2 linked regions of the Homo sapiens genome follow. The protein of the gene in region 1 purifies or fractionates together with the protein of each later gene. This does not show direct contact. Each region holds a gene or a part of one and is shown on either strand. Other genes may lie near its edges.

Evidence for each region.
Region 2: the proteins of LAIR1 (region 1) and ABCC2 purify together in Homo sapiens (affinity purification with mass spectrometry; one large-scale study listed by BioGRID and IntAct). This does not show direct contact.

The regions. Positions count from the first base shown.
Region 1 is NC_000019.10:54,362,774-54,366,689, reverse strand, and holds the start of LAIR1 (leukocyte-associated immunoglobulin-like receptor 1 isoform a precursor), read left to right. Parts: upstream 1-1,758; 5' UTR 1,759-1,885; coding exon 1,886-1,919; intron 1,920-2,203; exon of another isoform or gene 2,204-2,359; coding exon 2,360-2,395; intron 2,396-3,916. UniProt on the Homo sapiens protein: Functions as an inhibitory receptor that plays a constitutive negative regulatory role on cytolytic function of natural killer (NK) cells, B-cells and T-cells.
Region 2 is NC_000010.11:99,841,337-99,845,152, reverse strand, and holds part of ABCC2 (ATP-binding cassette sub-family C member 2), read right to left. Parts: intron 3,187-3,816; coding exon 3,060-3,186; intron 1,355-3,059; coding exon 1,253-1,354; intron 832-1,252; coding exon 688-831; intron 1-687. UniProt on the Homo sapiens protein: ATP-dependent transporter of the ATP-binding cassette (ABC) family that binds and hydrolyzes ATP to enable active transport of various substrates including many drugs, toxicants and endogenous compound across cell membranes.

The sequences.
Region 1 (3,916 bases):
GGTGAAACCCCGACTCTGCTAAAAATACAAAAAATTAGCCGGGCGTGGTGGTGGGTGCCTGTAGTCCCAGCTAATCGGGAGGCTGAGGCAGGAGAATGGCTTGAATCTGGGAGGCAGAGGTTGCAGGGAGCCGAGATCGCACTGCTTCACTCCAGCCTGGGCAACAGAGCGAGACTCCGTTTAAAAAAAAAGAAAAGAAATTTCTTCCGCCAGACACCCTGGCGTGGTATCTCTAGGGCATGGACAGAATGCAGCCACGTTGTTTGCTAAGGCGTAACAAAGGTGGCTTTCGCTCTAGTTCCAAGTAAGATCCTTATTTCCAGCTGAGACCTTGTCAGCCTGGACTTCGCTGTTCACATCACTATCAGCATTTTGGTCACAACCATTTAATCCATCTCTAAGAAGTTTCAAACATTCCCTTCTCTTCCTGTCTTCCTCCGGGCCCTCCAAATAACATGAGGTCTATTCCGTTAACAAATTTCAAGTGAACAAGACGTTATTGCTGACGATGGGTCGTATGTGGTGCAGCAGATCTCTAGGCCTGTTTGTTAATAACTCCCCATTTCCCCCTCCTCCCAGCCCCCGTAACCACCATTCCCTGCTGTGATGTTGTGACTCTGGTGACTTTGCAGATCTCCTGTAAGTGACATCATGCAGTACTTGGTCTCTGCCTCTGCGTCGCTTGGCGTGATGTCCTCAGGTTTCGTCCGTGTTGTCGCCCATGGCAGAATTTTCTTCCTTGTTTAAGGCTGAATAGTATTCCCCTGTGTGTGCACCACATTTTCTATATCAATTATTCTATCAATGGACATTTAGATGGTTTTCACGTCTTAGCTATTGCGAATAGTGCTGCAGTGATCAGGGGAGTTCAGACGGCTCTTTGACATACTGATTTTTTTTTTTTTTTTAGACAGAGTCTTGCTGTTGTTGCCCAGGCTGGAGGGCAATGGTGCAATCTCAGCTCACTGCAACCCCTGCCTTCTGGGTTCAAGCGATTCTCCTGCCTCAACCTTCCAAGTAGCTGTGCCCACCACCACACCCAGCTAATTTTTTGTATTTTTAGTAGAGACAGGGTTTCACTATGTTGGCCAGGCTGGTCTCGAATTTATGGCCTCAGGTGATCCACCCACCCCGGCCTCCCGAAGTGCTGGGATTACAGCTGTGAGCCACTGCGCCTGGCCTGTTTCTTTTAAATACAGACCCAGAAGTGGGATTGCTGGACCATATGGTAGCTCTATTTTTAATTTTTTGAGGAACCTCCCCACTGTTCTCTATAGTGATTGCCCAATTTTTAATTCCTACTGTGGTATGCGAGGGATCCAGTTTCTCCACATCCTCACCAATAGTCTCCTTAAAAAAATAATATGCTTTGTAGGATATTTTTAACGTGTTAAATACCTTGTCGGGATTTTAGCATAGATCACAATATTAAAAACTTGGGGAAGGATTTCTATGGCTCCCATTTGTAATACAAGGAAATGTCAGCTTCTAGTTTTGTAACGTCTTGCCCAAGAGCTGCGACCGTTAACTTGTGGAGTTGGGACGGCGTCCAAGTCAATTGGTTGCCCGACCTTTATTCTGCCTTGTCCCATAGATTTAGAAAGAGGCTGACACATCTGGTAACTAGTTTACGGTCATCTGCCTCTAAGCGACATTTAGGGTAAGCGACATTTTTCAGAAACCAAGGCCCTCCCTCTCGTCTCACTAGTGGGAAGGGTGGAAAGAACAGGACAGAAAGCTCTTCCTCTTGTGTGAGGCAGTTGCTGTGGAAGCCCCATAGGCAGGAGGCCCCCGGGCAGCACATCCTGTCTGCTTGTGTCTGCTGCAGAGTTCTGTCCTTGCATTGGTGCGCCTCAGGCCAGGCTGCACTGCTGGGACCTGGGCCATGTCTCCCCACCCCACCGCCCTCCTGGGCCTAGGTGAGTCCTGGAGGCAGCCGGGAGGCTGGAAAGGGGGTCGGGAGGTCTGGAAAATTCCCTGCTCAAGCCTGACTCTAGTCCAGAAGATTCTGGGGAGGAAAGTGTCCTCCTCCTCCCAAGACTGCCCTGCTGCTCTCCCTGGGGCCTAAGTCTGATCAGAGAAGATCTTGTCCTAAAAACAGGGGCCCGGGTGTGGGGATGAGGTCAGCTTTAAGAAGGGCTGGGGGAGCAGGAGCCTTTTTGGAGGAGGAGACTTTGGGATTTATCTTGAAACCATTTTGCAGCAAGAAGGATTACATGGAGACAGTGATGTCGAGGAGGGTTGGCTTGGTCGTTATGAAATGCTGAATGCCCCCCAGCTCCATCGAGCCCCCTTTTGACAGCAGCCCCGTAAGGAGACTGGGCACTGGGCATTTTTCTCACTGGGGCTTCTCTTCCAGTGCTCTGCCTGGCCCAGACCATCCACACGCAGGAGGGTAAGTCATGCCTTCGTCCCATCTTCCCAGTCCCCTCTGTCACCCCAAGGGCAGTGCTGGGTGGGAGTGATGTTGATTCTTAGAGGGCCTGGAGAGATCCCTTTAAATATACCCTAGATTGCAAACTCTTCCAAATGTAAAATGCATAACCAACCCTCACCCAGTTCTCTCTCGCATCCTCCACCTGTCTTATTTTGCTTTTCTTATTTTCAAAAATTTTATTTTTAATTGACAAATAATTGCAATTTGCGGGGTACAGTGTGATATTATGACGTATGTACACATTGTGGAAAGATTAAATAAAGCTGATTAACATATCAGCCCCATCACATACTTATTGTGATGAGAATATTTTAAATCTCCTTTTAGCAATTTTGAAATATACAATAAATTATTATGAACTACTGTCATTCTGCTGTGCCATAGATCTGAAAAATTCACTCGTCCTGGCTACTCGAAACTTTGTATCATTTGATCAGTGTCTCTCCCATGCCCCGCACCTGCAGCCTCCAATAACCACCATTCTACTCTGCTTCCGGGTGATCAACTTTTCTTAGATTCCACAGATAAGTGAGAACGCGCAGTAATTGTCTTTCTGTGCCCGGCTTATTTCACTTAGCCTAACGTCCTCTGGTTCATCCATGTTGTTGCGAATGACAGAATGTCCTTCCTTTTTTAGGGCTGAATAATATTCCATTGCATATACACAGCACATTCTCCTCATCCATTCATTTGGCGGTGGGCACTCAGGTTCTTGCCAGGTCTTGGCGGCTGTGAGTAGTGCTGCGGTCACCCTGGGAGTGCAGGCGTCAGCTCCGCACACCGATTTCCACAATGAGAATTCAAACCCAACACAACCAAGGCTGAGCCCGGCACTTTTCCCCAGACGAGCCCACACTTCACTCGGCAGCTTCTTGGCGGGGAACATGACAGTCACAAAGGGCAGACTCTGAACACTCATCCTCTTCTCCATCCTCCTGGATGCACCATGTCACCCAGTCCTGGTGATTTCACTCTAAATTTTTCTCATCTTTCCCTCTCTCTTCATCGACTTTTCCTGCATCACCCCCAGGTGACAGCCCCTCTCCCCTCCGTGGCTCCCCGAGGCCGGCCTCAGCCTGTCCATGCCACTGCTGCCTGCTCCCTTCCTGACCCCAGGGACTGGCGATTTGCAAAAGCACAACCATGACCATTGTACTTTCCACAGTTTTTAAATTGTATTCAAAAATTTTCATTTAATATCTCATCGTAAGATGAAATCTTTTTTTTTTTTTCTCAGAGCCCTTCCCCTGTTTATCTTCAGATAGAATCAGACCTGTGCACCTCTCTTTGGTCTGGACATGCCCATTTTCCCAGCCACATCCTGTCCCTGTGACCTGGGGCTCACTCATCTCTACATTCCTCCAGGTTCTTTCGCTTTCTCAAACACTCCATATGCCGCTCAATATGGTGGTTCTTCTCACATGCTGATTTTGAAAAAAAATAATTCATTTTAAAAATGACCAATGAGGCTGGGTGCGG
Region 2 (3,816 bases), on another chromosome or scaffold:
GAGTCTGAGTCAGAAAAATCACTTGAACCCAGGAAGCAGAGGTTGCAGTGAGCCAAGATTGTGCCACTGCACTCCAGCCTGGGTGATAGAGTGAGACTCCATCTGAAAATAAATAAATAAATAAATAAAAATAAAGAAAAAAGAAAAATGCTTGTTTAGAAGTGAAGAAGGGAAAGATTAGGTCTGCCACCAGCTGAGAGCCAGACTCTGATCTGGACCTCAGCGTCCTTGCTCATCAGACCCCAAGTCCTCGGAGAACAACAGCACCTAAGGAGGGTGCCTGACTTTGAAGACTGGGAGGAGAACTGGGCCATTCTTCCTTCAGGGACAACCTCCACACTGCTATTCTCAACAGTTCCTTCACCAGGCCTGGCCGCCCCCTTGTTTCCTTCCTGACTTCCTCTCTGCATACTGTGGACCTTATAGGAAAGGGGCCCTGGTCAGCTGGCTAGGAGGCAGGGAGGAGCTGAGCAGAAGGCCCCGACAGCTGCGGTAAGTCTGTGTGATCCCTGGCTGCTATCCTTCCCTCTGATACTGTGTCCCCACACCTCCCCAGGGCAGAGGAAGTGCCCTGACCCTTTCCCTCCATCCAAATGATGAAGGCTTAGGGCCCAGCTGCTCTCCACTCTGTCCAATTGTTGTTTGATCACAAGGCCTCCCATCCAGGCCTTCCTTCACTCCACCTACCTTCTCCATGCTACCGATGTCACAAGTGATCCCTCTGAGGACCAGATCCAGCTCAGGTCGGTACCGCACTTGGTAGTTGTTAAACTGGATCTTGCCTTTGCTGGGCCAATCTGGCGGAGGCCTCTTATCAGTCACCCAGGGTGCCTGGCAAGGAGACAAGATGAGAAGTAAGTTTTATAAGGTGGCAACTCAGCCGAACAGTCCACCCAGGACTCGTGTCATAGAACAGGAGAAGGGTAGCAGTGTCCCAGCTACCTAATGGCCTCTGCATTTAATAGGCTGAACTAGACTTGCACTTTTGGAAAGTTCCTACCTTATTCAGTTAAAGAAAAATACACCATGAGCTTGTGCTGTAGATCTCCTCGGTATGTTGCAAGACCCGACATCCCCTAAACCATTTCCTATTCTAAGTTTGAAGAAATTAGGTCCTTTGAGTTAGAGGAAAGGAAACTTTAGGGACCCATTATGGGCCCATGTAAAATATGGAGAAATTCTAAAGATGCACTCTCGAAGGAGTTGCATGTTGTTTTTGCCTTGTTCCTGGATTTTTCCAGTTCCTCCTTACCTCATTTTCCACTTTTGTGTACTCAGTTATTCGCTCAACAGCCACAATGTTGGTCTCTATTTCTGATGTCATCCTCACCAGCCAGTTCAGGGTTTGTGTGATCTACAGAAAAACCAGAAGACTGAAAATCATCATAGGCACAGAAACCAACTCAACCACTCAAACCACAAGGACAATCCAGTGCCGACTTTGTACCCAGCACTGTGCTGGACTCTACAAGGGAGTAAGGAAAAGTGTAAGAAAGACAATCCTTGCCTCCTTGGGGAAGGAATTAAGAGCAGTGCATTGAATGGCTGCAGACTAATTAGGTGCTCACGCGAAGGGCAATGTGAGTGTCTAGTGGTTTGGGACTAAAGCTGGAATTTGAGAGTCTGGCAATGGGTGGAGTGGGAGCAGAGCTCAGGCCTCCTGCCTGGATGCCTAGTGTTCTTTGTGAATCAGGGAAAGGCATGATCCAGGCCAGGGAATCTGTAGATTACTCAGATGCAAACTTCTTTCAGAAAAAGACTCAGGAGTTTGCATATATGCACAGAGAGTTCTTGTTGAGCAAATGGTGGTTAAAGAAAGGGAGCCACAGAAAGCAGAGGACGGAATCATGGGGACTCAGAGTATCCACTTTGTGTAGATTGAAGCATATGTAATTGCCGGTGTTTGAGTCATTTTGTTTTGGTTCAATCTAATAGTTTCCTGACTATTTGCCTTGTCTGTCCTGGGCTAAAAAGCCTAGAAATGGGGGTATGAAAGGGCAGTGACACAAGGAACTAAGTGACTCTAGTGAATAACAAAGTCCTTTTAGGTGCCCTGGCAGGAACACATTGGGCCTTATTAACTTCTTTTTTTTTTTTTTTGAGATGGAATCTTGCTCTGTTGCCCAGGCTGGAGTGCAATGGCACGATCTTGGCTCACTACAACCTCTGCCTCCTGGGTTCAAGTGATTCTCCTGCCTCAGCCTCCCCAGTAGCTGGGATTACAGACACTCATCACCATGCCTGGCTAATTTTTTTTGTATTTTTAGTAGAGATGGGGTTTCACCATGTTGGCCAGGCTGGTCTCAAACTCCTGACCTCAGGTGATCCACCCACTTTGGCCTCCCAAAGTGCTGGGATTACAGGTGTCAGCCACTGTGCTCCACAGGCCTTATTAACTTCTAATGAAGACAGCACTATTATATAATGCCCACATGTAACTATGCAAATCTCTTTGAACTAAAAAAATTAGTTCAAAAAGATGGTCAAATGACTCATTTATAACAAATATTGATTGAATAATTACGGTAGTGCCAGCCACTGTCTTAGGTGCTAGAAAAGAATCATGCCTGCCATGTATCCTCTAGTCATGCTGGGGATGCTGCAGTGAGACACATTCTATAGTTTTATCAGACTCTATGTTCTTTATTAGAATTACCTCCAATTATTCTACGATCTAAGAAAAATAAACACAGGAGGAATTATTTGTTCAAAAAGCCTTTCTGATTACTGCTACGTTCTAGAGAAGAAAGTTATTTATTCTCTCACTAGAACCAAGCAAAGAGGCAGACAGGGAACAATTAGATTGAAACATATGAAATTGCCTTCTTAAGCCCTAAGGTCAATATTTATGTCCAGTTTTCTAGATGGCATTCATGTCTACTTAGGAAGAGTAAGGAATACGTCCATGGGTAAAAGATGGAGCCAGGGTTTGAACCTCAGTCTTCTTTAGTCCCTCTGGGTTTAAGAAGGAATCAAGAGCACAGACTCCACAGTATACATCAGGCTTAATTTAAGAATAAGCACACTAACGAAACCAAACTCCCAACCTTCAAACTCACATTGAGTGCATTGGACAGAACAAAGCCAACAGTGTCCCCACTTAGGGTATCTCTATAAATAACCATCATCAAGGCTGAAAAGAAGACAGTCAGGTTCCCAACCAGCTCCAGGCGAATTGCAAGCCACCTGTGGGGCAACAGAACCAGAGAGTGCGTGTCACTGATCACGTCCTCATCTTAACCAGCAACCTTGGCGTTCACAGAACATTCTCAGAGGGTTTGACTTGATCGGGCCGCACTCTTAGGCAATGCCTCAATTTGACTTAGAAACACCATGTATTCCTAAAAGCCTATTGATATATTTTTTAAGAAAATAAATTGCATTTTAAAGATCCTAGAGGTCTTTGCTGAACTAAGGGAATCCTACAGTGCAATGTCTACCAAACTCGCCAAATCATAAGAATCACCTAGGGCAACTGTTAATATACAATGTTACAAATTCATGTGGAAAATTCCTGGACCCTTTCCTTTAAGATTCTGATTTCAGGGGGCCTAGGATGGGATTCAAGAATCTGCATTTTTTTTTGTTTTTGTTTTATGAGACAAGGTCTTGCTCTGTCACCAAGGCTAGAGTGCAGTGGCGTGATCATGGCTCACTGCAGCCTCGACCTCCCGGGCTCAAGCCATCCTCCTACCTCAACCTCCCAAGTAGCTGGAACTATAGGTGCACACCACTACACCCAGCTAATTTTTTTGTATTTTTTGTAGAGCCAGGATTTCATCATGTTGCCCAAGCTGGTCTTGAACTCCTGGGCTC